Regions from separate parts of the Homo sapiens genome. Here region 2 is linked to region 1. Evidence: fine-mapped expression QTL. A gene starts in region 1. The other region holds a variant in brackets. All regions are shown on one strand. Distances are between the middles of the regions.

The links.
Region 2: its variant is fine-mapped to the expression of TEKT3 in skeletal muscle (GTEx, PIP 0.94).

What each region holds. Positions count from the first base shown.
Region 1 is chr17:15,337,718-15,352,562 of GRCh38, forward strand. TEKT3 (tektin 3) reads right to left here and starts at 3,880. Exons shown (of 9, transcript NM_031898.3): 1 at 3,801-3,880; 2 at 2,311-2,344.
Region 2 is chr17:15,291,018-15,306,715 of GRCh38, forward strand. It overlaps TEKT3 (tektin 3), which reads right to left. Exons shown (of 9, transcript NM_031898.3): 9 at 12,795-13,135. The coding sequence ends at 12,919. The region is part of intron 1 of LOC124903932 (a long non-coding RNA gene); the gene reads left to right. Among named protein-coding and RNA genes, the nearest start is that of PMP22, 34 kb to the left of the region's middle. The variant G/T (reference allele first, on the strand shown) is at 11,700.

The DNA.
Region 1 (14,845 bases):
TGTAATCCCAGCTACTCAGGAGGCTGAGGCAGAGAATTGCTTGAACCTGGGAGGCGGAGGTTGCAGTGAGCCGAGATCATGCCACTGCACTCCAGCCTGGGCGACAGAGTGAGACTCCATCTCAAGAGAAAAGAAAAAAGAAATAAATAAAAGTATGAGAAAAGATAGACTGTTTAAACACTAATCAAAAGAATACAGAAGTGGCTATATTAATATCAAATCAAGTAGACTTCTAAACAAGAAATATTATCGGAGATAAAGAGAAAAATAAGGATAAAGGGATCAGTCAAGGAGATATAGCAATATTAAATGTTTATGTAATCATTTACCTAACTTTCAACACCTAAAGCAAAAATTGACAGAACTAAAATGAGAAATAGACAAATCCACATTATATTTCAATATTTCAACGTTTGTCTGTTAGTAAATCATAGAGCAAGTAAACAAAATATTGGTTAATACAATATTTAGCAATATTACTAACAACTTTATGGCAAGAAATTTGACAACATAGATGAAATGGACAAAATTTTTGAAAGATACAAATAACCAAAACTGATTAAAGAAGAGTTAGAAAACCTGAGTAGCCTTGTAGTATTTTTTAAAAATTGAATCTACAGTTTAAAAACTTTCCTCAAAGAAAACTTCAAGCTCCAATGGGTTCACTGGTGAATTCTACCAAACTTTTAAGGAAGAAATACCTCAGTTTTTAAAAGCCTATGGCTTACTTTGGTGGTGCGCATCTTTCACAATGATTAACTTACTCTCTAAATTCTAACTCAGTCAATTCTTTTTTTTTTTTTTGAGATGGAGTCTCGCTCTGTCCCCCAGGCTGGAGTGCAGTGGCGCCAAGATGGCGCCACTGCAAGCTCCGCCTCCTGGGTTCACGCCATTCTCCTGCCTCAGCCTCCAGCGTAGCTGGGACTACAGCCGCCTGCCACCACACCTGGCTAATTTTTTTTTTTTTTTTTTTTTTTTTTTAGTAGAGACGGGTTTCACCGTGTTAGCTAGGATGGTCTCGATCTCCTGAACTCGTGATCTGCCAGCCTCGGCCTCCCAAAGTGTTGGGATTACAGGCGTGAGCCACCGCGCCCAGCCAGTCAATTCTTAAGAGAGCATGTGCAGCACATACTAAGATCATTAACCGATGCTATAAATATCTCATACTTGCAAAGAAACAGCAAATTCTTTGGAAAAATGACTGAAAATAGCTATGGAAAAATCCCCTAAATTAGGCAACTGCTTATTATACATTTAATCATGATGTTTTGGTTTGAATGTTTCCCTCTAAAACTCAAGTTGAAATTTAATTACCATTGTGCAGTATTAAGAGGTGAGACTTTTAAGAGGTGATTATGTTATAAGGGGTCTGACCTCATGAATGGAATAATGCCATTATTGTGGGAGTGGATTAGTTATCACAGAAGTGGGCTCCTGATAAAATAATAAATTCACCCCCGTTGTCTCTGTCTCTTTCATTCACTTGTCCTTCTGCCATATTATGATGTAGCAAGAAGACCCCCATCAGATGTAGCCCCTGGATCTTGGACTTCCTAGCCTCCAGAACTGTGAGCCCAATAAATCTCCGCCTTTATAAATCACCCAGTCTCTGGTATTCTGTTATAGCAGCAGAAAACTAAGACATGTGCCCAAACAGAATTTTAAGAAATGAGACATGGGCTACAAAGTCAAATACAATGTTTGACTAGGTGCACTTAATTTACAGTCAACTGTTATTTACATACTGAAAAAAATGCTACAATAGTCTTCCATAAATATTAACATACTAAATATAGAATCAATCACACAGAGATTTTAAGAACCGGAAAGCTCCATTTGCTATCCAAAAGTTGGCTTCATACTGGGTAAACATTTTATTAGCATATTTAAGCAAGACTGGAAGATCATAAATATTTTAAAGTACAAAAATCTACAGACCATTTTCTGCAGAAGACACAAGTTTACATGACTTGCCCCACACCCTGCCTTAGATCAGGGGCAAGCATAGGCTTGAAGGGCTCACATACAAACCCCTTTAGTTCCTTTGTAGCCACTTAATTACAGTTCTAAATAGGAGCGGAAATAAAACAGCGCTGCCAATACACTAACAAATACCAGAAGTAGAAGAAATCATATCAGACATCAATGTTTAATTTCTCTTTATGCATATATTACATAAGAATACAGGAAAACTTCATCTCTTCAAAAAAAAAAGTTTGGTTAAGGAACTCTATTCATCGATGGTATATAAATTATTACACTTTGGAGAGCTAGATGGTGGTATCCAGTAAAGTTGAAATGGCAAATTACCTGTGACTCAGCAATTCAATTTCTTGGTATGTACCTAGAGAAATGCAAATATGTTTACAATTAGAATGTACAAGAATTCCTTTCTAGTATTTTTAAAGGGAGCAAACTAAAAGTCCATCAACAGGAGGATGCATACATAATATGTGGTAAATTCATGCAAGAATCACCACACAACAGTTCAAATGAATGACCTGCAACACGTACAGCATAACCATTCTATCAACTTAAAAAGTAACAGTAGGCCGGGCGCGGTCCTCATGCCTGTAATCCCAGCACTTTGGGAGGATCACGAGGTCAGGAGTTCGAGACCAGCCTGGCCAACTTGGTGAAACCCCCTCTCTACTAAAAATACAAAAAAAAAAAAAAAAAATTGGCCAGTTGTGGTGGCAGGCACCTGTAATCCCAGCTACTCAGGGGGCTGAGGCAGGAGAATCGCTTGAATCTGGGAGGCGGAGGTTCCGGTGAGCTGAGATCATGCCATTGCACTCCAGCCTGGGCGACAAGAGCGAGACTCCGTCTCAAAAAAAAAGTATACATTGGTTTAGGATAAACATATGAGTAGTAAAAGTATAAAAATATGCAGAATATAAGTAAATGCTAAATTCTGTTGGTTAATAGGGATAGGTAAGGAGAGAGGGGAATGGGATTTCCAAGGGTTACATAACAGACCTTAATTGTGCCTGTAATCGATTTTTTGTTGGTTTAAGTTTGGACTGGGTACATGGATTCACCCCTGGGTTCACTCTACTTATTGTGTGAAGTATTTTATTTTAAAGAAGAAAAAAGTAGAATATTTTGTCAGTTACCTCAAAACATTTTCGCCTGTTAGTAAAACTGTATATTTTTTTCACAATAATCAAACAAATAATTTTACCCATTTCCAGGATGTTTATTTCTCTACAATACTATATACATCCAGGAGAAAACATAAAGGGGTTTGGTCTAAACTGCCCAAACACAAGCGAAAGCTTTGCAGCCAAGCTAAACAGAAACGACTTTGGGCGGTGAGAGAACAGCTTTGATCTGAATTTAAGGAGCTCGGTCTACAAGACCAGGTGATTGAACTCTCCTCCCCGTGGCTGCAGATCTGAAGGCTCGGCTATTGAAGCAGAGGGGGACGAGGAACAGCGTGCGGGGCGGCCAGCACCGCAGTGGAAAGGCACAGCGCTGCTAACGGGTAATTATTAGAATTAAGAAATTAAACGAATTAGCACAGTGTCGGGGGTTCGGATGCCCCTTCCCTGGGCATCCCTTGAAAACCCTTGAAAAGCATCAGAAAGGTAAATTACGAGGAAACCAACGTCTGGGTGGGAGGTGCCTGTGGATTTGTACGGTTTTTATTTGGAAGGAAAAGTGAAGATCGCGGGGAGGAATTGCAGGGTGTCCGCGACCTCCCGCGATCCTGAGGCGAGAAGTTGGAGTCCTGGTTGGCGAAGGGGGATCCTTTGGGGTAGTCCTAGAGGCAGGCTAGAGTCAGCGAGACCACTCACCTGTCGGCGGATGCCCGGCGAGGGGCGGGAAGGGGCTGTGGGAGGAAGGGGTCGCAGCCTACCACCTGCAGCCCTCGACTGGGGCCCAGACCAGTCTGGCCCTGGCCCCGCCTTTCCTATCTGTGACGATAGCAGCGCCTGAGGGCCACTCAGCGGCCGCCCCGGCCGGCTCGCCGGAGCTGACTGGCCAGTTATAGGAGAGGCGGGAGCTGTCAGGCCAGGAGGGAAACCCGTCGGGCGGCGGTTACTATGGACGCGCTCACGCTTAGTAACCGAGGCTCCCCGCCCTCCGGGAGACCTCCTTGGTTTGGGAGGTGAAAGGGGTGAAGAGTAGCCCAAGGGAGAGGCCTCGGTGATTTCCCGACCTCTCCTGTGAAGCCTGATTCGGAACTCTTCCAGCTGCGAAGAACTTGGCCGATTCTAAGGCACATCAGGGCTGCCTGGAACCCTAACACCTGCCTAGGTGTTGACAAGCCCCCACCTTTCCTGACCAGCCTCTCTTCTCTCCAGCAGAGCTTCTCCTGTGACAGAATTATCTAGTGTTCCTTCCCTGCTTCCTCACTCTAAGAAAATGGTTTGGGCTTTCCCTCTCTCTCTTCAGCAAATATTTCCGTAAACAGCAGCCCGTACTGTTTCTTCCAGGTGCTGGCCCACATTTTTACATACATACATCATTGCTCATCCATGCAACCTCTTTCCAAACCTGTAAGAGGGGTTTATATTGTACAGATGAAGAAACTGAAGTTCGAGAAGTTAATTGACTTAGACAATGTGACTCAGTGGCAGAGCTAACACTAAAACTCAAATCAGTCAAACTTCAAGGCATCTTTCCATGAGGCAGCAGTCTAACCGTGTGAGCAGCAAGAGAATTCACCGAGTTACTTTGGTAACTAGTAATGCTAAAGAAAATAAAGCCCTCAGTTAATTATTTTTGGCTTTTCTGGGAATCACTGTGTGGCACTCCACCCAAGGACGAGGCGGAGGGACTTGCCAGGATAAGGCAGGCTGCCCAGCCCCTAGGAGACCTCAATGAAGTGACTTCAAGTCGGGGGCTGGTCCTCAGCTTTGCCAATTCAGACTCTTGGTTATGCCAGTGTCCCGAGTTTATTAGAGGCTGACTCAGGCCAACCGAACTCATGGGAACCTAATCTAGAAAAGTTAGAATGCTGCCTCAAGTGTTTACATTAAGCAACACGACCCCTCTAACTGTGGAGATGAGCCCAGAGTATTTTCCCCAAAGAGGAAAACCACAGAAAACACCCAGTGCTCAGAGGCTACTCATTTGCCTAGACACAAGACTAGACAAGGCTCCCATACCCGACACCAGGGCACTGCAAATCCTGACTAGTTTTCCCACTATGTTCCTTATCAGCAACTTTTTCTACATTCGGCCTAAGAAACATTTCACTCTGAGCTGTCTTTTTTTATTACTTTTTTCTCATGCATAGTGTTCTGCATTTTGTATTTTCAGTATTCAGCACGGGCTTTGCAGATGCCTAGAATCCGTAGACAATGCAGCAAATGATGCCATGTTTGTTCTTTGGGCCAAAAGACTGGCAACTGTTCTAAAGTAGATCTGATTGCCCACAAACTCTTTAAAGATGATGAGCAGTCTTTGTGCTTTGCACACATCTAGATGCCCAATAGCATTGCTAATTGAAGACAAAATTCATTCAATGTCTGATTTAAAAATAAACAGGTGAAATTATAGCAGAATTTGATCTTTTCAATGATACATTGAGTCAGTGAATTTCAAAAACCTCCTGATTAAAATTTCAGGTTAAATTGATCAACTCTGTTCTCCATAGAAAGGATTGAATGATGTTTTGGAAATAATTTAGATACCCTCTCAAAAAAAATTGTCTCATGATTATCAAGTCTTTGCCAGAATTGAGGTTAATGCTTGCCCTTCAGTTTTACAGTACGATAGAGACCTCCTACAATGCTTATTAAAAAAAATAAAGCAAGACCACTAGGATTCAGCTATTCAACCTTACTTTCTCAGCAGCTCCACAAGTTCAGGAATGTGTCTGTTTCTGTTCATCTCTGTATCCCCAGCATGGGGCTTCCTACCTGCCATGAAAGAGGGACTCAGTCAATGTTTGTTAAATGAAAGCATGAAGTGTGATGTTTAGTGGGGTAGGAAACTATCAAAGATACAGAAGTGGAGAAGCAATAAAGCAGACTTTGCCTATTTTATAACTTTGCCTTAGTCATTTTCATAACTTGAAGTCATTTTTATAACTTCCTTAGCTGCTACATTTTCACTCTATTTAGAGTCACCAAACCTCCTCTCCAGTCTTTCTGAGCCTTCCTATCACTCAACCATCGCCCTTCATCAAGATGCTATCAGCCCCTTTGAGCTGTCTATCCTTATCAGAAATCAAGTGTGGGCCTAGCCATCTTCACCCCTGGACTTCCACCCCCGTTCCCATCCTCACAGTGACTCACGTCCACAGCCTGCTTTCTCCATTTCTCCTCCAGCACTAAAGTTAATCATCACATTCTTCCTATTCCCCTGACCTCACCCCATGCCTCTCTCCCCCTCACTCACTGCGTACTAGCTACACTGGCTTTTTTTGTTTGTTTGTTTGTTTGTTTGTTTTTGAGATGGAGTTTCACTCTTGTTGCCCATGCTGGAGTGCAATGGTGGTGCGATCTCTGCTCACCGCAAATTCTGCCTCCCAGGTTCAAGTGATTCTCCTGTCTCAGCCTCTCGAGTAGCTGGGATTACAGGCATGTGCCACCATGCCCCGCTAATTTTGTATTTTTAGTGGAGACGGGGTTTCACCATTTTGATCAGGCTGGTCTCGTACTCCCGACCTCAGGTGATCTGCCCGTCCTGGCTTCCCAAAGTGCTGGGATTACAGGTGTGAGCCACCACACCCAGCCTACACTGGCTCTTATTCAGGTTTCTTGATGCTCTAAGCTCTTTGCCACCTCAGGGCCTTTGCACATGCATTTGTGTCATTCCAGTTTCCAGTTATTTATTTTGTGTGATTATTTAATTAACATCTAAGTTCCCTTCCAGAATATGAGTGTCAACAGGGGAGGGGAGGGAAGGAAGCAGGACTGTTTTGCTCACCACTGAAAACTCAGCAGTTCACCTGCTGGTGCTGAGGAGGGCAGAGTACTGTGAGGAGGCCCATTGCACCTCTGACAGCTCCTAAGGGGGATTAAAACAAAAACACAAAACCAAAAACACCTCTCCCACAGCTGCGCTCACAATTCAACAGAGGGATTAGATGCCAGACTTTCTAGTTCCAAACCCTGATGTGGATGATGAGAGGAAAGCTCCCGGCTCTGTCACAGCCACTCCAGTGTTCCCAAAACCCAAATGTTCTGATGGGAGCCCCCTATACATTTATTTGATGTCCTTGCTACATGTCTGGCCCTTTGCCAAGTGCTGGAATGGAAACAAAGTGGGGTCACAACCCCAGTGGCTCCACGACAGCGCTGCTGCTGAGATGGGGAGCAAGTTCATTCAGGGATGAATCTTATAATTATCCTCTTCCAACCTTTGCTGGTTCCTCAGGGTTTAAAAAAGGAGGTCTCAACTCCTCAGATCAGCATCCAGAGCTCTCCATGATCTGGTCCTAGCCTGGCAGTGCAGCCCCGTGTCCACACTCCCCACTCCATGATCCCAAACATGAGTGAACACACAACCCTGCCTCTAACATCCTGTGATTTTTCTGATCCCTGACTTGCTCATGCTGTTCCCTGTACCTAGCATCTTCTTCCTCCTTAATATTGCCCCAAATTTATAGAATCTACTCATGTTTTCATGTCAATGTCAAATGCTACCTCCAAAATACTGTTTGTTTTGTCTGTCAAAATTAATTTACTTTCCCTGTGTATATTTGTGTAGCATGTACAATCCACTTGATGTTATGCTTACTTACTGATGTTTCTGACTCCATAGACTGAGCAGTCCTTGCATCTGCACACAGACATACACACCCCACCATTGCTCTGCACTAATACAAATCATAGTTACTATTTATTAAACCCTCACTCTGTGCCATATATCATATATTATGCTAGCTTTACATACAGTATTTCATTTATGGCTCCTCATACCACAATGGGATAGGCCATTATCATTTCCGTTGTCTAAATGAAGTGGGGATTCCATTGGAGAGGTTAGGTAGCTTGACCAGTGCCACACAGACAACAAGAGGAAGAGCTGCGCTTTCAATCCAGTTCTTTCTGGCTTTCAATTCTGTGCTCCTCACCTCTATACTACAAGCACAAAGTACCAACCATGAAGAAGTAGCTTTTAATGATTATGCCATGTCAGGAACCACTCATTCCATCCATGAACTCCTCCACCTCTTTCACCAGCCCTGAGAGGCAGGTATTACTGCACCAGCACCTAGTCAACAAATACTAATGGCTTGTTGAATTACTTTGTGTGAGACTGACAACAGCAGACAAAGCCAGTACTGGGACAGAGGTCCCCTGTTAGGAGGTCCTAAAGTCAACTTTTGTAGGGATGAAAACCTTTAAAAAGGCAGTCAGAATAATGACACTCTCCAGAGAGGAGAGTGAGTGGTCCACAGAGTGGCCACAGAGCAGGTGGCTGGTCCAAGAGAGTTTAAACAAACCCCGCCCCCACCCCACCGCCCCCCCACCCCCGAGTCCCGCCCCGCTGCCGCCCAAGATTCTAGGACTGGAGTCCTTACAGGCGATGTTTGCTGTTAGCACAAAGTCCAATGGTACCACAAGAGTACTGGCTGAGACAGCTGAAGGTGCTCACAACTACTTTGTGAGATCCTTTAAAGATCTGCAAGATTATAATAGGGCAATGGAAAAACTTCTGCTCATTCTGGATGGCAGAGCAGGAGACAGTGAATGGGAAGCTTGTTAGACACGCAAGTGGATGAGAAAGCAAGCAGGTAGTGCCAGCACAGTCTGCTTCCATCAGAAGAGGGGCGGCACTCGGGGCTGAAATGGAGTCAGCGAGTTCCACTCTTCAGCTCTGCAGCACACAAAAAAGAAAATTCTTACTGCATTAGTTTGGTGTTTCCGGAAGTGTGTTCCCTGAACTATTCAATCAATCAATCGTTAATAAAATAATAGTTCCATCAGCAAATATATTTGTGAATTTCTAACACAAAAAAAGTTAAATACCTTTCTTTAACACAAGAATCCTCCGAGTCTGTAATGTGCCAATTTGTATTTTCCCATGGAATTCTAACCACAGAGTTTTTAAAACTCAGAACATTTTAACATCCCCCAGGACACTCATGGAACACAGTTTGGGGAACCTGCTTTAGCATAATGCAGCAATTCCAAATTTTAGCATTAACGTGCCCTAAAAATATATTTCAGTCAGAAAAAGAAAAATTTTTGCCCATATCTAGCTTATTTCAGACATTCTCTAAAGCAATATAGAAATAACTGACTTATCTGTGTATTCAGTATAGAAAACTCCATTGTGATTTGATGACAGTTTCCCTATTAAGTATCTTGTCTAGAAATGTGTGTGTGTGTGTGTGGGTGTGTGTGTGCATGAAGGTGATTCATGGAAAAGTAAAGAAAAAAAGAGTAAGAGAGGTGAAAGAGGTATAGTTGTCCTTTGGTATCCTTGGGGAACTGGTTCCAGGACCCCATAAATATCAAATTCTCAGATGCTCAAATCCCTTATATAAAAATAACATAGTATTTGCACATAACCCACATATATCCTCCCATATAGTTTAAATCACCTCTAAATTACTTATAATACCTAATACAATGTAAATGCCATGTAAATAGTTGTTATACTTTATTTTTTTATTTGTATTATGTTTTATTGTTGGATTGTTGTCTTTATTTTTTAAAAATATTTTCTATCCACAGTTGGTGAATCCAAGGATGTGGAATCTATAGATATGGAGGGCTGATGGTATATGGGGATGTGAGTGAGGAGTGGAAGGGGAGGGCTGATGGTATATGGGGATGTGAGTGAGGAGTGGAGGGGAGGGCTGATGGTATATGGGGGTGTGAGTGAGGAGTGGAAGGGGAGGGCTGATGGTATGTGGGGGTGTGAGTGAGGAGTGGAAGGGGAGGGCTGATGGTATGTGGGGGTGTGAGTGAGGAGTGGAAGGGGAATGTTAGGAAGTGGAAAAAGAAAACGCTGCCTTTATAGCCAAACTGTCTCTAACCTGCTGATTTCTTCTAAAACCTTTTAAGTCCATACTTACATTTATAGCTATGTAAACAGAGAAATTGGTAATATTTGCATTGTAGGAGAGGTAACAGAAATGTCTTCCATCTCAATTTTATAGTAATATAGTTTCTAGACGTGTTTTTTCACTGTTGTTGCAAATCACTTAGAAAAAAGTGGTATTTTACTCAAATTTTCATCATCAATATCAATGGTATTATTTTCCTTGATTTCTGCACTGGGAATCTGTACTTTTAGAAACAGCAATGTCAATCTATGAACTGGATGTGGGATCTGAATGGACTTAACGGGTAGAATATGACATTAATATTTACATAAAAGGGCTTCATGGAAGATTGGTTAGGAACCTCAGCTGGGTGTGTAATGCATTCATTGAGAATTTTTATCACTTACAACGGCAAGGTGATACCAGTTGTCACGGCTGTGTTTTGCTTATGTTACTAAGCTATTAAAAGGGGTGTGTATCACTGTCAGCTTTTTCAATTGAATAGACTTTTTCAGAGCATGAAATTGCAGGGCACGCCTTGCTGGGAATGCTTCCAGAGAGCCAAGATGTGTAAACTCAGCCAGGATTATTCTTATCTGAATATCTATCCCGTGTTTAGTAGATGGAAGAGCTATGATTCAAGAGGTTAAGTGATATGCCCAAGGTCACAGTCACATTTTTGCTCATGATCAGTCTCCTGACCAAGTAGAAAGTGGTGGGTTTCCACAGTGCTCTCTTTAGCTTCTCTGAGAGCCATTATGTTATTGTTGTATGTTTTCACAGATTGCCACTCCTGTTAGACTATGAGTCCCATGAGAATAAGGACAGTGTTTTTCCAGCCTTCATCACAGGAACCATTTTTGAAGCACCTGCTCTGTGCAAGCCTCATATACCTCATTTATATCTCTCAGACTAACCCCATGAGATTTATAACAGTACTTCTCTTTTACAGAGACTTAGAGGTTAGGTAACTTGACCAAGGCCACATTAGCTAGAAGGTGATACAGCTGGAATTCAACCTAGGATGTCTGACCCCAAAGCCTGTGATCTTTCCCCTACCTCAAATGGCTGTACATTTTTCCTGTGCATTCTCCTTGTTAGTCCTTAGCACTGACTGACCATCGGGCTAGGCCTGTGGTGCACTTCTGCTATGTGTTTATTGAATGAATGCATGGATGGATGAGAATCATAACTTGGGAAACAATGACCAGCTTTCCTCCTGGAACTTACTGGTGGTGTGGTATTGGGCAAACCCCCAGATCAACTGGATCTCTCCATAAGAAGAAAACAATAATGCCTCACTAGTCCGAAGGGAAGATAATGAATCAGATGCTCTATCGAAGTCTTTTCCAGAAAACAGACTGAAGCTGGGATGCTCGCTTGTAAATGGTTCTTGGAGAGCCCATCAGGCATGGAACCTATTTCTATAGGAACTGTCTGCTCCTCTTTTTGTCCTGGGAGAAATGTAACTCAAGGGAAAAGAAATCAAGGTTGGAGTTATCAGGTGAGATGCATTGTGAGTAATCAACAACCTCCCCAGCAGCCAAGATGGCTAGACAATCAATCAGTCTTCGTGCCTGAAGACTTTCTTGTATCATCTGGGACTACCCTGAACTTTAACCTTAAAGTTTCACTTATAAGGTCCTGGTATTATTCACCGACAGTCCTATGTCATAAATTAATCATCATCAACAACAAAAATGACTCATATTAAGCATTATAGGGAGATCCTTATAACCTAAAGAAGCAGATAGAAACACAGATGGGATACTTAGAGTGGGGAAAAATGCTTGGTTTAATGTTGTTAAGAGTCATTAAATGGTAACCATTGGATTATGGATAGTGTTGTGTTATAGATTGTATTTTGTACTATGTATTTAAAAAACGGGGAACTATACCAAGGCTACCTAAAAAGATCTGACATTTTAAGATCTGAGGGCATTTATAATATGCTCTCTATGATTCTGTAGAAACCGAGTATTATAAAGAAACATTGACTACTACTAACAGAAGGACACAAACTGGTCTAAGGAGGCTGATATCTTATCAGAGGTACATGGTGTTTCATCCAGATAAGCCAATAGGACCTTTATTAGTTTAGAACAATTACCTTTTGAGCTCAGCTACTACCACTAGTAAGAAGTTAGAATCTTCTTAAGAGGAAGACAGAGCATGTCAAACAGAATCAGAGAGTCAACATCTCTAATTTACCATCAGTCATGCAATCACTGAACAATTTGTAACTCTCAGTAGCATGCAAGACAATGAATTATGAAATGTGAGTGACAGTGGTGTACTGGAACTGGGTCATACTGGCTTGCAAGACTATTGTTAAATTTTCAAGAATTTTGCAAGCTCATTAAGCACAGCCTTTATTAAAAACTACATTATATAAATTTACTGTTTAGTAAATTATATTAAAACAATGGCAACAGATACCCAAAATTTATCACCTTCTAATTATTTCACAATATTTTATTGTTTTATGTCTTGAAGTTTATTTTCATCTATTGTATCTTTATAATGGAAACACTTTATCGTGATGTACTACTGAGCATCTCTTCCCAACTCTGACATCAGCAACATTGGTAGCTTGAAAATGACTACAGTGGGAGTATTTACATTATGGAAATGATCAATAGCCACAAAGCAAGGCTTGATTTATAGTTTTGTTGATTGTCTAAACTCAAGAAAGTGATGGAAAGTATAATGCACATTAAAGTATCTCCTGTTTGTAGCCATGAAATTGTGACAGGCACACACACACACACACACACAAATTGAAGCTACATTCTCCCACTATTTGAAAATAATTATCTGATTCAGCAAAGAAGTCATTCGTGTCATTAAAGTTTCCATATACATCTTCATTTTTGTCTTGTTAATGTGAACGGAGCTGTCAACCAACATTCATGTTGGACTCCTCTTATTCATTAATTGCAACTACAGGTTGGTTAGAAATACAAGAGTTTGGCAAAAATCAACAAAATAATTCTGTAAAAACCAACTGGCTATATGGAATTTATAATACAGAGTATTTGTATATTTTATTACTATTTATAAATTATAAGCTAAGAATTGTTTAATATCATTAAAATATAATAAACATTATGTACAGATACATACATTTTTCCCCAGAGATTCAGCTGTTAAATGTTTGTATCACTGTGAATGGGCCCCTGTTTCTGTCCTTAAGAGGTTAACATTTGGTGGGACGTGGGCAAAAATCCTACAGTGCAGGCTCTGGTGTGGTCAAAGCCATCAGAAAGAAACCCAGTCTCTTCGGAGCTCAGAAGAGGAAAAAGCACTGCCAGCCAGGAAAAACTGAAAGTTTTCATTTACGGGCTACAGAGAAAATTGTGTAGATCTTTAAACTGACAAGAGTTTGTGGAAACAAAAGCAGAGTTGGATATAGATAGATGTGCTGTATTTTTATAAAATATTTGAAATGTCATTTCTCAGTGATTTAATAAGAAAGTTAATTTATTTTTGTTGACATTGTTGGAAATAGTTTATCTTTTGTTTATAAACCAGAAACAGCCAGAGTCTGGCGTGTGTTAACTTGAGTCTGATTTGTGCTGGTCTTTGTCTAATTTACGTTCGCTTCAGTCAGCCAGTTATGAGGTTGCCAGGCTGTGGAGATGAAGGTGGCAGATAGCGGGCTGAGTCTTCCACAACCTTAGCGCAAGCTTCCAACACAGCTTGTCAGGCTATATAGGGAAGAATCTATTCAGCTTAGGGTGTGCGTGCTGACTGTGGGCCCCTGGGGAAGGAAGCCTCTCTAGCTATCTCTTTACGAAGCTATAGCAGACGCTGTCCACACTTCAACCCATGTCTCCTCGGACCCTTTGATCATTTTCCTGAGCACAGACTCCCCGTATGCTTATTCTTACATCTCCTTGAAGATGAACTGTCCTCAGGCTGCCAGAATCTACTTTGCTTAGGCAAGAAAGCCTGGAAGTGCTTGGGAATTTGTGCCTCAGGCCAATCCATAACCAAAGACTAATGAGTTCTGGGGTATAAATACCCCAGATGCTCTTCTCCTGAGGCGTGACCCTCTGAGGCATGACCTACCCTGTTTCCAGAGCTCCTCCTGTGGGAATGAACCAAAGTTACCCTCCTGGGACTTTGCTGGATACCACATTCCTGCATCTCCCAACTTCCCTTCTATAATAGATCCTACTTCCCCATTTCTTTCCCAGTTTTTCCCAGTAGAACATTTCTTGATAAATCACTTTCACACTAATCCTTGGAGTCTTCTTCTGGTGAACCTGACCTAAGACAGTGGCCATGTTTTATGTGGTGTGTTCCCCACCCCCATTTATTGGCCATGAATGTTTGGACCACAGGTAAACACCCAGCTCAAAGGTGGCCCCTCTGTGGACTGGCCAGTGGATTGAGGTGGCATAGCTCAAGTGCCAACCTAGGCAGATCCTCTCTCTCATGGGGTTTGATATTGAGTCATATAGAGAGTGACTGAGTCATCATATTTGATATTGCAAAACTCTGGCTGAGATTCACGACTCGATCTGCCAAGAAGCAATGAGATAACTCTCACTGGAGCCTTCTTACATTCTGAAGGACTTTGTCGTTTGCAAACATGCTCCCATTTCCATGGCATTTCTTAATTCTATGTGATTCCTTCCTATAATCCTCATTACTCAAGGTAATGGGATGTCTCTGGTCCTCAAAAAGCCTAAAATACAAGCTAGGAATCACCTCATTGAGGGACCTAATTTTCTGGCCATTTATTGCTGAATTATTTAGGGAAAGGGCCCTGAAAATTATCAAAGAGGCCATAATGATTTGAGTAGAAGCAACATGGAGCCAAATTAGCATTCATATAAGTTGGATAATGAAGATGAGGGAATCTATTTGAGATATTAA
Region 2 (15,698 bases), 46 kb before region 1:
AAATTCCAAAGCCCAATTCAAATAAAAAGTGTGTTAGGAACCATTCACTGCTACCTTCCAGCTTTTGAGTTTAATACACTCTTACTGCACTTCTAAATGTTCAGATGGATGCAGGGAGTACAGAACAGTTTCTCACCATATTCTATTTAGTTCTTCGTCAGGTGATTTCTGAAAGAGCCACCTAAAATTTCCTTCGGTCTGAATGGCCTACAATTGTGAGCTAGGATTCTATGTTTTTGATATGCTTAGATTAACATTAAATTTACTTTTTAGTACTTTCATGACTTTTTAAAGTCCATGATCATCTGAAATTTATATTAGCATATCAAATGAAATTACACTCTAATTTTTTTTCCAAAAAGCCAGTTATTAGGTCATCCATCCTTTTCTTCATCGTTATGAACCGTGGATTTTATTGGATCCACACACACATGTGCGCCTATTTTTGGACTTTCTATTTCATTGATCTGTCTGTCTATCCCAGTCATAATTACTATAGTTTAAAAATACTGCTTCTGGAATAATAATCAAGTGAAAATGGATGAAAAGTTTTTTTAAAGATAATGAGAGAAATCTTACCTTAAAAATAACTTCAAAGTTATTATGAAGTATTTCATCTATCACTAGAAGATAATATATGCTGTATTATACATGCTTTACTTTCTTGCCCTCTGCAAGCCTGCACACATGAACAGCTTTCTCTGTGTCAAAGCAACTCACATTGACTTCATTGTCTCTCTGATTGCTGCTTTTCTCTCCTTCCTTTCACTGCCGATCCGCCCCTGCTGCCATGGAACGTGCTCCTCTTTCCCTTAAATTCCTGTGTTATCTGGGTACACTGCACTCCCCAAAGAGAACTATTAAAAGTTATCAGTGACCTCCTTCTTGTCCTTCAACTCTATTTCTGATCTTCAGCCTCCCGCACCTCCCTTATATAATGTTGCCCCTCAGCACACCCACCTTGGTACCCTCTCTCCACTAGCTACCCTGGACCTCCTCTGACTTTCCTGCTGGGAACTTCTCTGCCTTCTTGCTTTTCCTGCATGTGTGCTGCCTGTACACACTTCACTTCAAGTGTGACTGGGGGCGCCTTGCACACATTCCTTAACCTTGCTCCCCGCCTCCTGTGGTTTGGATATGGTTTGTTTGGTCTGGCCAAGTCTCCTGCTGAAATTTGATCCCCATTGTTGGAGGTGGGCCTGGTGAGAGGTGTTTGGGTCATAGGGACGGATCCCTCATGAATGGCTTGGTGCCATTCTCTCAGGAGTGGGTAACGTGTCATTCTTAGTTCCCAAGAGAATTGCTTGTTGAAAAGAGCCTGGCATCTTCTTTTCTCTCTCTTGCTCCATCTCTCATCATGGGACACACCGGTTCCCCTTCCTCTTCTGCCATGAGTGGAAGCTTCCTGAAGCCCTCACCAGAAGCAGATACTGGCACCGTGCTTCTTACAGCCTTTAGAACTGTGAGCTACATAAATCTCTTTCTTTATCAATTACCCAGTCTCAGACAACACAAACAGACTAAGACACCCCCAAACCCTGAGAGTATGAGTTGGTTTAGTTCACGTGGCTTGTGTTCATCAAGGACCAGCTGAACGTTTTCACAGCGTGGTCTACTGTCAGCTAACACCTCCTGGTCTAAAAGGAACTGCCCATCTTCCTGTGGTCTCCCAGAACAGCTCCTCTCCTTGACACTCCGATGGCACCATTGTCCCCAGCACCTCCAAGACATCTTCTGGATGTGCGTGAAAGGAGCCCCTAATTTACAAACCCTTACCACGTGATTTCTCCTCCTTCCACTCTGCTGCCTCCGCTAGCTTATTCTTCCTACTTCCTAAGTAGGTTCCATGGAGGCTTCTATTAAAAGCTTTTCTGGCTTCCTGATCCCAACAGGATTAATCAAAATTTCTTACCTTGGCACCCAAGAACCCTGGTGTCAGTGCACAGACGTTGTTTGCAGCATCTGTACTCACTGCCACCCTGATTGATACTGAAGTCAACAGGATTTGGATTTCAAGCTGGACTTGGTCTCGCAGTGGCTATGTGGGCTTGGGCAGGTTATTCAGCCTCACTCTCATCAAAGACCTTGGGTGGCGTAAGTGGGATTTCCTACATGTAGCCTGTATGTGTCAAACGATGAAGACCCTCCAGTGATCAAGGATCTTGCTTGTTGAACATAGACGCAGAACGTGGCTACACTGTACAACAGTAATGGTAACACCCCTGGACTTCAGAAGGTGAACAAAAGGGCTCCCCTCCCTTCCTTCTTCCATCTTCTCAGAGGTCAACACAGGGACCCTCCTTTGTTTCTTCTCTGCTCGTGGAGATCAACAAAGCGATTCTCTCTTCCTTTCTTCTTGGTCACCCCTTTTGACCCATTGGAGCTATTTATTTCTTGGCATCCCCAAAATGACCATTACATGTAATAGGTGTTCTGTAAGACTTTGCAAATGAATTGTTGCATGAGACCACCCATTCATTGTATAGAGAAAAGATCACTGAGAATGAACAGATCTTGGTTTAGGTTCAGATTTGCCCTATTCTGACTGCATCACATTCAACAACTATATAACCTTGCTAAGCTTTAGTGCCCTAAATTTTCATGGGGTGCTCTGGTCAGTGTTCAATAGCCGCACGTGGCTAGTGGCTGTCATTCAGACAGATAAGATGTAGAATATTCCCATCATTGCAGAAAGCCCTATTGGACAGTGCTGATAGATAAAACACTACAAGAAGGGTGGTGTGTCTGCCAATAATGTCATTAAATACTATTTATGGGAAATGCCTAGAACAGAAGCTACACAGACAACAGAAACACTGCATTTGGCAGAGGAGACAGCCTCTGTCTCTAGATTACTCCAGTGTGTCCATGGAACTCGATTAGTAGGGATTCAGACAAACAACTAAAAGACCCCATTGCAATCATCTGGGCTCATTGAATGATAGGAAAGAAGAGGAAAAGGCTACCTTGGAAAGGTAGCCCCACCTTACACAGGAGCCCCTAGTGTTCAGCCAAAGATACCAAGCAATTCTAAAAGATAATCTGAGGCTTCAAATGGGAAGTTATGGCTTTCAGGTTTTGTTTTTTGTTTTTTGTTTTTTTGAGACGGAGTCTCGCTCTGTCGCCCAGGCTGGAGTGCAGTGGGGTGATCTCGGCTCACTGCAAGCTCCGCCTCCCGGGCTCGCTCCCATTCTCCTGTCTCAGCCTCCCGAGTAGTACTTTTAGCAGAGACGGGGTTTCACCGAGTTAGCCAGGATGGTCTCTATCTCCTGACTTCGTGATTCCCCCGCCTCGGCCTCCCAAAGTGCTGGGATTACAGGCGTGAGCCACCGCACCTGGCCAGCTTTCAGGTTTTTAAGCTTCTTAATCGATGTAAGAAATCGAGCCTTCAGTCAAAAAGGCAAAGGGAGCTGCATGGTATTTAGCTCAGGGAAAGAGATTGGGAGGCAATGTATAAGAGATTATAGCTTATCCCAACGAGGAGATATTATCAGATGATTGCCGGACCTCCAATTTCCCCAGATCCCCTTCAATATAGTTCTATAATGTGTTACTATTAACAAATGCCTTGGCTGGATTTGGCATTACCAGCCTTACCCTTAGTTCCTCGAGGGCAATACCTATGTCCATCTTTTCACTCTTCACAGCACAACCACAGTGCTCCTGCAGGACTCAAGATTCATGTCACTCCTTGCCTTAAAACCCTCCAAAGGGTTCCAGATCCCACTCGCACACCCAGGATTGGCTACATAATTTGAGGCGCCCAGTGCAAAATGGATATGCAGGGCTCTTTGTTCAAAAATTATTAAGAATTTCAAGATGGGCTGGGCATGGTGGCTCACGCCTGTAATCCCAGCACTTTGGGAGGCCAGGGCGGGTGGATCACCTGAGGTTAGGCGTTTGAGACCAGCCCGGCCAACATGGTGAAACTCCATCTCTGCTAAAAATACAGAAATTAGTTAGTGTGGTGGCACGTGCCTGTAATTCCAGCTACTCAGGAGGCTGAGGCAGGAGAATCACTGGAACCCAAGAGCCGGAGGTTGTAGTGAGCCGAGATCGTGCCACTACACTCCAGTCTGAGCAACAGAGCTAGTCTCCATCTCAAAAATAAATAAATAAATACATAGAATTTCAAGATGGTGAGAATAAAGCACTAAACCAAGCATAGACCCTTCTGAGTCTCACACCAATGAAGCTGGCCCTGCCCCTACATAACTCCTATAGATAGCTACTCAAATTTTCAGGGTCTTTTAAAATGTGTTTCTCTCTATCTAGAACACCCATGGGGGCTCTCCCACTGCCATCGTGTTGCATATTGATTTCTCACCTTTCAGATAATTGCTTAAATGTCCCAACTTTGAAAAGCCTCCCAAGGCCCAAACACTCAAGTCCTTACAAATTCTCATAATTAACATAGTTCTTTGTATGATTATTGGTTGCCAGTATAATCCACTGACTGTAAGCTCTGTGAGGACAGACCCCATTTCTGTCTCATTCATCATATTATTTTCATGATCTCATAAAGCACTAGCACATAGAGGGTGTTCAGTAAAAATTGGTTTATTGAATCCGTGAATAAATGGATGAATTGCAATTTTCTACAGACCATCTCTTCAAAGGATTGGCAGGGGGGACAGGAGGAGGATGACTCTGGAGGCGAGCATACCACAATTCCCAGTCCAAATCCAGTTTCCAGCCTAGTGTCACTCAGGACACCTGATTCAACCAGCCCGAGAGCAGGGAGACAGTAAATCCAAAGATTTGGATCTATTTGTATATTATTGGACCATCCTATTGTTCCTACTGGGTCTCAGTGTATTCTTCTCACTTGCCACTGAATTTGACTTGCTTATATATTTTTCAGGGAGTTTTATTGATTACGAAAAAAGACTTCATTAGATTATTCCTCAAAGAAGTCTTACGGGTTTCCAACCTCTATTTTGAAAGACATAGCAATGGCTTCCGAAAGGCCAAGCAATGCAGCCTTTACAACTAAAAACATAAGCGTGTCTCATCTGACTGATAACAGTATTTAACTGAGGAGAGAGAGGCTATGACTGGGGTGGTAGAGGTCAAAAAAGAGTTTAGCCTCATCTGTAATGTTTCATCATCTTAAAAGGGTAATATATTTCTATGTTGTCATACAATTTTATATAATATTAAGATATAAAATGTAAGTCATTTGCTATGCAGGTAATATGGACAGAGAAAAAAAGAAAAAATATATGTAAATTAATATTATATATTTGCTTCACCTTCCTGGCCATAAAAAAATTAAAACTCAAATTCTTAAAAACAAGGATGCTATACCCAAAAAATCCATATATATGGATATACAGAAATAAATATATAGATATGGTTTAAATGTTAAAATAAGCAGCTGCCTTGATTATATCCATCACATAACTGACGCTACAGAGCTTCTCATTCTCATCATGGGATGGATTTTGTTGACTAGTATAATTCTCTAGTTGTTTTGTTCTCTTTACTGAGCCAGAGTATTTCACTAATGCCAATCTGGTTATTAAATTTTAATTTGATGTCTCTTCAACTCAAAATTACACTCTAACCGCGCAGTCTTCTGTAAAATCATGCAAAGGTAAAGAATCACAAGACTACGTGCCGTCAAGACCTTTTGTATTATCCATTTGGAATTTGTAGTAAGGCCCATGTCTTCGGCTCATGTGCCTCTTCCTCTGTTTGCCCAATTGACAGCTCAAATTTTGTGTTAGAGAATGTCAAGCTTCTTTTATTTTTTATGAATAGAATTAAGCTACACTATAATGCTGCTTTTGTAGACATGAATGAACAGGTATTGCACTATGGGTTAGGTCATATTTCTTGATTTCTAACAACATATACTTTTAAAGTTAATTTTACAGGTCTAGTCCCCCAGAATGACTCAATCTCCCATTTTCTATTGGACTGTACACTGGTGCTATAAATTAAAACCACATCATGTTACCTGTCCCAGCTGGTACATTCTTGCATCTCTGGGCCTCAGTTCATCTCAGGCCCAGTGTGGCCACCGACACTGCAATTTGAAGTATGAATAAAACAAACCTAAGCTCTAGGACTAAACTGGGGCACCCGTCTCTACTGTTATCCTTCTTAAGTTGCTTTGTAAAATAAGCATCTGAAGACATCATAGTATTATTTCAATCTCCAAGCCAGAGCTTTCTGTTTCTTACCAGGGTTTCAATAACCTCAACAGCAGGGTACAGCAGTTCCAGCCACACAGGGCACATTCCAGAGCAGAATAGAGGCTCCCTCTTTAGTCTGGGCACACGTTCTTCAGGTCTGCTTATTTGAGGCCTGCTCTCTGCTCCCCTAAAACTCCTTGTTGTTTCTCCAACCCAGCAGCTGAAGTTCAGCTGCCACTGAACCTCACTGTTGTTTCTGTTATAGTAAAGTGATACCAGGAAAGCTGAATAACCTTCGCTTATATCTCCTGGCTGGCCCCATAAGCGTTTGAGCTTGCCATCCCCACTCTATAGCTTCTGAGTGTTTTAACACTAAAGCGCCTTGGGTTGTTTTGGCTCTCATAGTCTTAGAAATACCTGCACCTCTGGGCTGGCTATTCTGTGCTTAGAGGGCCTTGCTTTGTCCTGTTTCCTAAATAGGTACAAACTTTTTTTTTTTTTTTTTTTTTGAGATGGGGTTTCTCTCTTGTTGCCCAGGCTGGAGTGTGACGGCACAATCTCCGCTCACCACAACCTCCGCCTCCCAGGTTCAAGCAATTCTCCTGCCTCAGCCTCCCAAGTAGCTGCAATTATAGGCATGCACCACCACACCTGGCTAATTTTGTATTTTTAATAGAGACGGGGTTTCTCCATGTTGGTCAGGCTAGTTAGTCTCAAACTCCCTACCTCAAGTGGTCCACCCGCCTCGGCCTCCCAAAGTGCTGGGATTACAGGCGTGAGCCACTGCACCCGGCTGAAAACTATTTCATTTTAGCCTGCTATTTCTAGGGATGGGATGTGCTCAATTGCCTAGCCAGCACTACCTGCACTCTGGGGAACTAAACAGTCTGAATTTCAGAGTGGAAAATGACCATTCATGTTATAGTCCCTGCATTCAGCTGTTTCTTCTGGTTGGTGCATCAGTCAGGATAGGCTAGGTTAGGCTGCAGTAACAACTCCATAGTGTCCATGGCTTACGACTGCACGAATATATTTCTTTCGCATGTTGAATGGCTGCAGTGGGTCAGCAAGTAAGTTCTGTTTATTGTGGTGGCTCAGAGAATATCTCAAATGTTCTCGGTTGTCATGTCAAAAGGAAGAAATCTTTGGACAATCTCACACTGGCAATTAAATATGCAAGTCTGAAGTGACTCACATCCCTTATGCTCGGTCACATGGATCCACTCATCCACAAGGGACTAAGGAGGTGGAATGCTGTAAATAGTTTAGTAGTCTAGGCCACTTATGGCTAGGTTGGTTTTCAATGACAGAGTTCTGGAAATCAAATAACTGTACCTCACTCAATCTCTTCTGGCATCCTGTTGGCAATACCCATTGACATTGATGAGTTGTGGGACTAGCCTCCATATACCTTTTATCAAATTGTCAGGGAATGGTTTTCTCTATCTGAAAAAACAGAGTACATAGATACTCAGTTCTTATACTTAAATTCTACTTAAAGATAGAATCAAAGAAGTTTAGAGCTAAGACTTGGCAATACTATGGTAACATTTATTGTACTGATGGTATTGATTATTTATAATAAAATATTACACCTTCATGAATATCTGTTGGGATATTAAAACATTGGTTTTAAAATAATTTCCTTTAAAAACACAACTTTTGAGGATGTCTAATTCATTCTAAACAGCTTAGAAGAAGGCACTGTAGGATGATAGCAAAGAGCTTTGGAAGCAAGCTCATCTGAGTTGAACTCCTGACTCTGAAATGCGCCCCTGTTTGGCTTTGGGTTATTTTCCTTCCCTAAGTCTCAATTTTCCCATTTTAGAATATAAATAATTAAATGTATGTACCTTAGCCATGATGTTGAAATAATACACGTACAGTTGTTCTGCTCAGGAAAAGCTGGCTATCATTATCATTACATGTATCAATCTCAAGATAGGATCAATGACACAGAAGCTGGATCCCACTCATGTTTTAATTTTATACACATTTTCCAAAAGTAAAAATTTCTTAAATGCTTCTGTCCTCAGATCTAATTCCAATAATGCAATCATTTTACACATTTTTTGTTGTTGCTGAGAAGGGAACCACTGTCTGGGATTACTCTCCTCTCAGAGACCAATTAACAGTATAGGGGCCGGGCGCGGTGGCTCACGCCTGTAATCCCAGCACTTTGGGAGGCCGAGGTGGGTGGATCATGAGGTCAGGAGATCGAGACCATCCTGGCTAACAAGGTGAAACCCCGTCTCTACTAAAAAATACAAAAAATTAGCCGGGCGCGGTGGCGGGCGCCTGTAGTCCCAGCTACTCGGGAGGCTGAGGCAGGAGAATGGCGTGAACCCGGGAAGCGGAGCTTGCAGTGAGCCGAGATTGCGCCACTGCAGTCCGCAGTCCAGCCTGGGCGACAGAGCGAGACTCCGTCTCAAAAAAAAAAAAAAAAAAAAAAAACAGTATAGGATGGTAGTTAAGAGCTCACATCCTAGTATCAGCCAAGAGGACTCAGGAGATTGTCATGTTATATGTTGGGATCATAGTAAGCACTCCACAAATGTTAGATGTCCTTCCTCTCCAGGAATTTGATTTCTGAGAATCCAGTGAAAACTTTAGTTGTCTATTGTCACGTAACAAATTACCTAAGAACTTAGTAGTTTAAGACAACAATCTATTATTTCTTGAGATTCTGTGGGTTGACTGAGCAGCCCTTCTCTCTCACATGGTATCAGCTGGGGCACTAGGAGAGTGGGAAGATCCCAAATGGCCTCACTCACATGGCTACCAGTTGGTGCCTGCCTAGCCTGAGAGCTCATCTAGGGCTGTTGGCTGGGGAGCCTCTCCGTGGGCTGCTTAAGCTCCCTCACAGCATGGTGGACTCAGGCTAGTCAGATTTCTTATATGGCAGCTAGCTTCCAAAAGCAGAAGCTTCCAGGCCTTCTTAAAGCCTAGACATAGAATTGACACAGTGTTACTTCCATTGCACTCTATTGGTCCAAGTGATCACAGAGTCCGCCTATATTCAAGGAGGGAAGACTTCACAAGGACATGAGTATTTGGAGGCATGGTTATTTTCCCACAGATATTTCCCACCAATATCTATGATATCCACCTTAGGGAACTGGGAAATTTGGTCGCCCCTTCCAGCACTGCTGCAAAGCATCAATATGTTAATCTTTCAGACTGTGCTACATGTGGTGCTCATGGGTGTTGTCTGTGGACCTGGCTTATTATTTTCCTCTCAGGTTGCTTGTCCTCCTCTCTCTTCAGGAGCCCCTGTCCTTGCTATACCCATGAAGAGCACTGGGGTTGAGAGATGAAGACAACCAGCTCGTTGCAAATAAATGGGTGGCCCTCAATACAGATATGGATTTTTATTATCAGAAAATGTGCAGTTTTGCTAAAGAGCAGGTTCTCGGGCAAGCAGAGCATCATTTTTATGGAAGTAGGGAAGGCATTCTTATGTCTGAGTGACTGCAGGGCTAAAATGCCAAAGACGGGAATGCTGAAACTTAGTCCAAAGATTTCACATCACCTTAAAAATTAACCTTTACTTTACAGGGAGGGAAAAAAGTGCTTGCAAAATAAAAGTTATTTTTATGGTTCCCACAGCCCTATGCATACACAAGCGGATATTATTTAGAATAGCTATGAAAGGCTCCCTGTTCTCAATAAGCTCTCCCCTCACTCTACCATGATGCCATCTGAGTTGTTCAGGAGTCATGGTGATGTATTTAGGGGTCTTTCCTTGCCAAAAGGAAAACGTGGGCTGCAGAAAGGGTCTCCTTCTAGCTCCTAGCAAAATTAGCAAATGGGTAGGTCCTATGGGAATGAGCCAGAGGTCACAAGACACATCCTTCTGATGTTGAAAGCCAAGGATTTCTCTGAGCTGAGAAAGAATTCAGAGCTGTTTAGAGAGAGGGATGAGGGAATGTATGCAGCCACTTCCCCATTCTGGATTCCCTGCAGATGGAACTGTCCCATTCTGTAGCCCAGGCTGGAGAGCAGTGGCATGATCATGGCTCACTACAGCCTTGACCTTCTGGGCACAAGTGATTCTCTCACCTCAGTCCCTCAAGTAGCTGGGACCACAGGTGTGTGCCACCATGCCTGGTTAATTTTTTTTATTTTGTAGAGAGATGGGGTCTCCCTATGTTGCCCAGGCTGGTCCTGAACTCTTGGCCTCAAGCAATCCTCCTGCCTCAGCCTCCCAAAATGCTGAAGTCCTAAAATTCTTAAACAGGACCACGCTTCTGATCCTTGGAGCTCTTGGACTTCAGCAGGAGCCACAGCACCCATTTCATATGGCACTATCTGTTGACCTCTCAGGATCCTTCTCAACTCAACCTTCCAGATAAACATTCCCAGTGGTCTAGGACTGGCCCCCAAGGTGAATTGATTCACCATTCCTGGGGAAGAGATTGAGTATTGTTTATTTTCCCCATGAATGCATGAATACTTATCAGACCATATATATTAATATAGAGCTCAGATAGCATCATCAGAGCACTCTGCATAGAAGGCTGGTCTTGGCAGTTGGTGCCAATGGTGAATCCAGCCCTGCTGGGAACAGTTTCAGGGCCAGGGCTAGAAGAGGGGAGGCTGCAAGGGAAGACTCGGGCACAATGATGAGCAGCAGCTTCACCTCCTCCTTTGTGCTTTGGGTTAGCCCTGCATACAAAGGGAAGGAATCCGCCCGTTTCTGGTGCAAAACAAAAATTATAACCTAAAATCAGACCCCACACTTCAGCTATTTACAGCATGAACTCAGGACTCAAAAGTGCCAGGTGAGGTGTTTATGACAACACTCTCCGGAGACAGAAATGGAAATTACTAAAATTACAGGCGACTCGGTTATTTAGGGGCAATTACACACATTTCTAAATCTGAATGATGCTTGGGTAAGTGGAAGCCTTTGACATTCCAGCAGCCCTTCTTAAAGCCACATGATATTAAAGATAGTTTGGGCTTAAATAAATAAAGCCAGATCATGTGCCAGTATTTGTAGTCCTAAGATTCTTAAACAGGACCACGCTTCTGAGCCTTGGAGCTCTTGGACTTCAGCATTAGAATATTTACCCTCCTGGAGTAGCTGCAACATTTTAGATGAGAAACCAAATGTTTATTTGTGGAATTTAGCCTTGCCCACGGTTTACCAAAATAACAAAAAAAACTTTTCTATGTCTGAATTACATTTCCTTCCCATCACAGTCTTGTAATGCCAGGAATATATATGCTTCAGTAAAAGGACTGCATAAGCATATATTCCTAAAAAAAAAAAAATACAGTTCATGAAAAAAGTCAGAAATGTTTTACCCCAAACACATAACAAATAAGAGACATGCTGAATTTATGTTTATTCCCACTATTGTCTAAAAGTCATAACTACCAACATTTGGTTACTCTCATTGCTAAAAATTTTAGTGGCATTTATATACCTTTGTTTCCATTAGAGGCAAAAACAGAACAACTAAACCTACAATTTGATTTCTAAAATGATATACTGAGACCACAGCACAACCCCAATACAAGCTTCTCATCTGGACATCCACTCTTCTG[G/T]CATTCTGAGATGATTTGTGAAATTTACTAACCAAGGTCTTAAAACACTTTTAAGAAACAGAGAGAGAGAAGGAAATGGAGTTGGGGTTAATGGACAGTGGTTAAGGCAGAGCAAGGAGAACACAAGGATACAGAGAGAAATGCTAATAAGAGAGAGAGACACAGAAGCGTGAGAAATAGGAGAGAAAAGAAAGAAAATCTTGCTCCCCTCCTGGTTCATCTTCCCATTTCAGAGCTCTCAGACCAAAAGGATTCAAAACTAGCATGCTTTCTACACCATCTAAACATACTTTCCAGGTGATTAAATGCCACTTTTAAACATACAAAAGAATTAGAATAAATTATAAATAAATTATCTTGGGATACAGAAGTGCTTTCTGAGCATAATTCCAAAGGCATAAATCACACAGAAAACACTGACACATTTTTACTTGTGTATTTTAAAAAACCATAAACAAAATGTGAAGGTAAGTAACATATAAAGAATATATTGTCAGTACATAGGACAAAAGTGTCACATATGAAGAAATACAGTGGGCGAGGTGCCTGGAGAAGGGGGGCAGTGGGTGTTCAACTCCAGGTTCAGGGGCTGGGGGAACTGAGGAGTATCTCTGAGCATGGAAATGGCTTTATGAAAGCAATGCTCAAGTAATAAAAGTTTGAATTGGAGAGATGAGAGTGGAACAAAAAGAGACGTGCAGAACACATTATGAATTATGCATTATGAATCACAGCCAAGCTGGCCCTACCTACTATTGTTCCAAATGCACTCCGTATTTCTCTACCTTTGTTTTTGATCAAATTACCCCAACTACCTCATACCCAGTGGCCTTTCCCCTTCTTACTGTGGATCCTTTAAAGCAAAACTCAGAAACCACCTACTTCATGATTCCTGACTGCCTCAGAGAGAATACAGTCCTCCTTTCCAGCCCATTCGGATTACACACAAAATGACAAGAATCACACCAGTTATCCTTTTTACCTTCTCTATTAGATTGATTATATTTCTTCATATCCTTCCCATAACCCAGACGCCTAGTAAATAATAGAAAATTAAGGTTTGGATGCAAACAAAAGGCTTTCCGAGACAGGAGGTTGGTACATTTCCATCAGCATAATCCTTTAATAAGTGACTATATTAGCATTCGGTTCAAATGCTGAGACAGTGCTCTGGCTCAGCCTTAACTTAGGGGTATCAAAACCACACCCGGTGGGGTCCCTAGCAGAAGCCGACCAGCCGGAGGGTGTTGGGGTAGCTCTTGCGCATGCTCATGCATTTTTCCTGGTCGATGTACAGGGAATTGGCTTTGACAGCCAGGTCATACTCGAGTGTGGCTTTGATGTGGACCAGCGACTGCAGGGTGTCCTCTGCATCCCTCAGGCGCTGCTGCAGGGTCTGGATGGTGTCGTCAACCTCGTGTACCTCGTTAACAAGGCTGCAGCATAAAGGAATCAGCATGGTTAGGTCAGCATGTAGCTTACGCAACTCCAAGTACATCACATTGTAACCAGCGATGCAAAGCTCACATTTTCTTTACTTTAGGATATATTTATCAGCAAATGAGAGGTGCATGAAATTAATAAAATATAAAGAAATATAAAGAGAATGGTGACAATGAACCAATGGGAATGTAGATGTCCCAGGAGATAGAAAAGGATTTCATAATTATAGAAAAATATCTAGACCATTTTAAAATCATTATGCCAAGGCAATTCTATAGTTTCACAGAAATTCACAACTGGAAAACGAATTTAGAGAGGTCACCAAGCCCAACTTCCTTGTTTTACAGACTAGGAAATAGAGCCCAGGGGTTCATAAGCTGTCCTTTCCATCGACACAGGGCCCACATGTGTTTGTAAGCTGTACCTGCTTATCCAGGAAGCTAAGAAGGAAATTCAGCGCTTCAGTGGCCATAATAAGAAACTGGGTCCCATTTCCTGGCCCCATTCCCCTCTCAGCTCCTTGAGACAGAAGAGTAGAAGCAGAGACCCAGGAAGACCTATCTCATCATCTGCAGACACATCCTGGAATATGCTTGCAATTTCTCAGACCTCGAGGGCTTCACTCTTGCTGTCCCCTAAGCTCAGAATGCTCCTAACCCATTCTTCATCCCGCTAATTTATCCCATCCTCAAATCCTAGGTGAATTAACACTTCTTCCGGAAGTCCCTCCCTTAAACCGGAAACCATCTGCTGCCCAGTGTTGTGACTTCCAAAAGGACCAAGCCTTTTACGGCACTCAGGGTCTTGTGATTGTCTGCTTGCAACATCTGCTGTCCTTGCCCAGGGCTACATCCACAGCCGCTCCTGCAAAAATACAGGTGTGCAAAAACTACTTATTGGGTGAAGACCAACTTTCATGCCCTAGGTGAAACGGAGGACGTCTTGGGAGGTAGAGAGTTGCCCAAGGTCTGAATCCATGGGATCTACTAAGAACAAGACCCAGACCCAAGGCAATAAAAAGGAAGGAAAGGCAGGACGGAGCCTGGAGCATTCGCTTCCAAGCCACTTGTAGGTGGCCTAAGAAGAGGAAGGCTGTGGTAAAGGCCCCCACGCAGGCTGATTGAAGCAACAACAGGCCATGGGAACATATCCACGCTGTGCAACACCTTTCATCTTACAAGCTCTACTGTCTCCTGCTTTCCAATGGGGAGGGGAAGAATTAAAGTTTAAGTGCCAAAGTTTGGTTTTGTCTGGGGACGGTAAACACAAAACCTGAGAACTCATCAGAAAGCAAATTTCTTGTTATTGTTTAGGCCAAACTGAATTAAAAAAGAAAGGCTTTTTAAAGATCCCAGGGTATAAAATATCACTAGCAAAGAAATACATCTTCGGCGAGGCTGCCGCAGATGGCTGGTAATGGGATTTTTGATGGTGGATTGTTTACAATCACACGGGGCCTGCCTCTTGTCTCCCACCCTCCCTGGCTTCAACAGGAACCCTGAACCCCAACGTAGGAAACAGAGCAGGATGATATATGTGTCTTTACTCCTTTCAGCCAAATACGAGTCTAGTGGAAATTTTATCTGGGAGGGAACATTTGAAAATATACATGTCAAAACATCAATGCTAAAAAAAAAAAAAAAATCGAGATATAGAACGTAGGCAGTTAGAATACTTGTTTTCACACTGCTGCATGGACACAACTAGGGAATAACATGCTTCCACTTCTCTCATCGTTAATTAGAAATATATTTTTCATCATCTTCAAGGCCCTATTTCACTCCCAGTTTCCTTGTTCTTGGCTGATTGCAGAGAGCTGTTCTGCTGAAGTCACTCTTTCTCTTTCTTTCTTCTTTTTTTTGGAATTACAGAACCACAAAATGTCTTGCATTCAAATACAAATAAAGCTACCACAGTTTATTTATATATATGTGTGTGTGTGTGTGTGTGTGTGTGTGTGTGTGTGTGTGCATATATATATACATAAAGATTATTTAAGTAGAGCAGAGCCTGGTCTGTCTGGCCTGCCACCAAAAATGCCAAGAATGTTTAGAATCACTTTTGAAATAACTCGTTTAGAACATTTTTAAATAAAAGTAAGTCTTGAAATGAAAACAGCAATTTTTCTCAGTCCCCACTCCCCTTAGTTTATGATCTTTATTTTTTCTAAATCTAGACCGCCGAAGGGCTGCTTTCAGAACCATCCATTTAAAAAGGAAAGTAATCCCCTCCCCCAATAATAATCCTAAAGATTTTTGGCAAGGATATTTTAACAAGAAAACTTGACAGAAACAAAAGTAGGTTTTGTTCAAAAGTCAGTAAAGGAGCAGAGGAAATAGACATACCATGAAGTCGGCAGGAAGTGAAAGAAAAGCAAATTCTGTTTAGCCAGGAATAGGAAAAAAAAAAAAAAGAGTAAAAATCATTCAGCTCCTCAGGAGAAGCTGTGAATGCCTCATTGTTTGATAATTCCGAAGTCCTATTAGACCACTACCCAAAACTCATTTTAAAAGCAACCCTGTGTCTGTCTAACGGCAGTATAAACAATTTATTTGT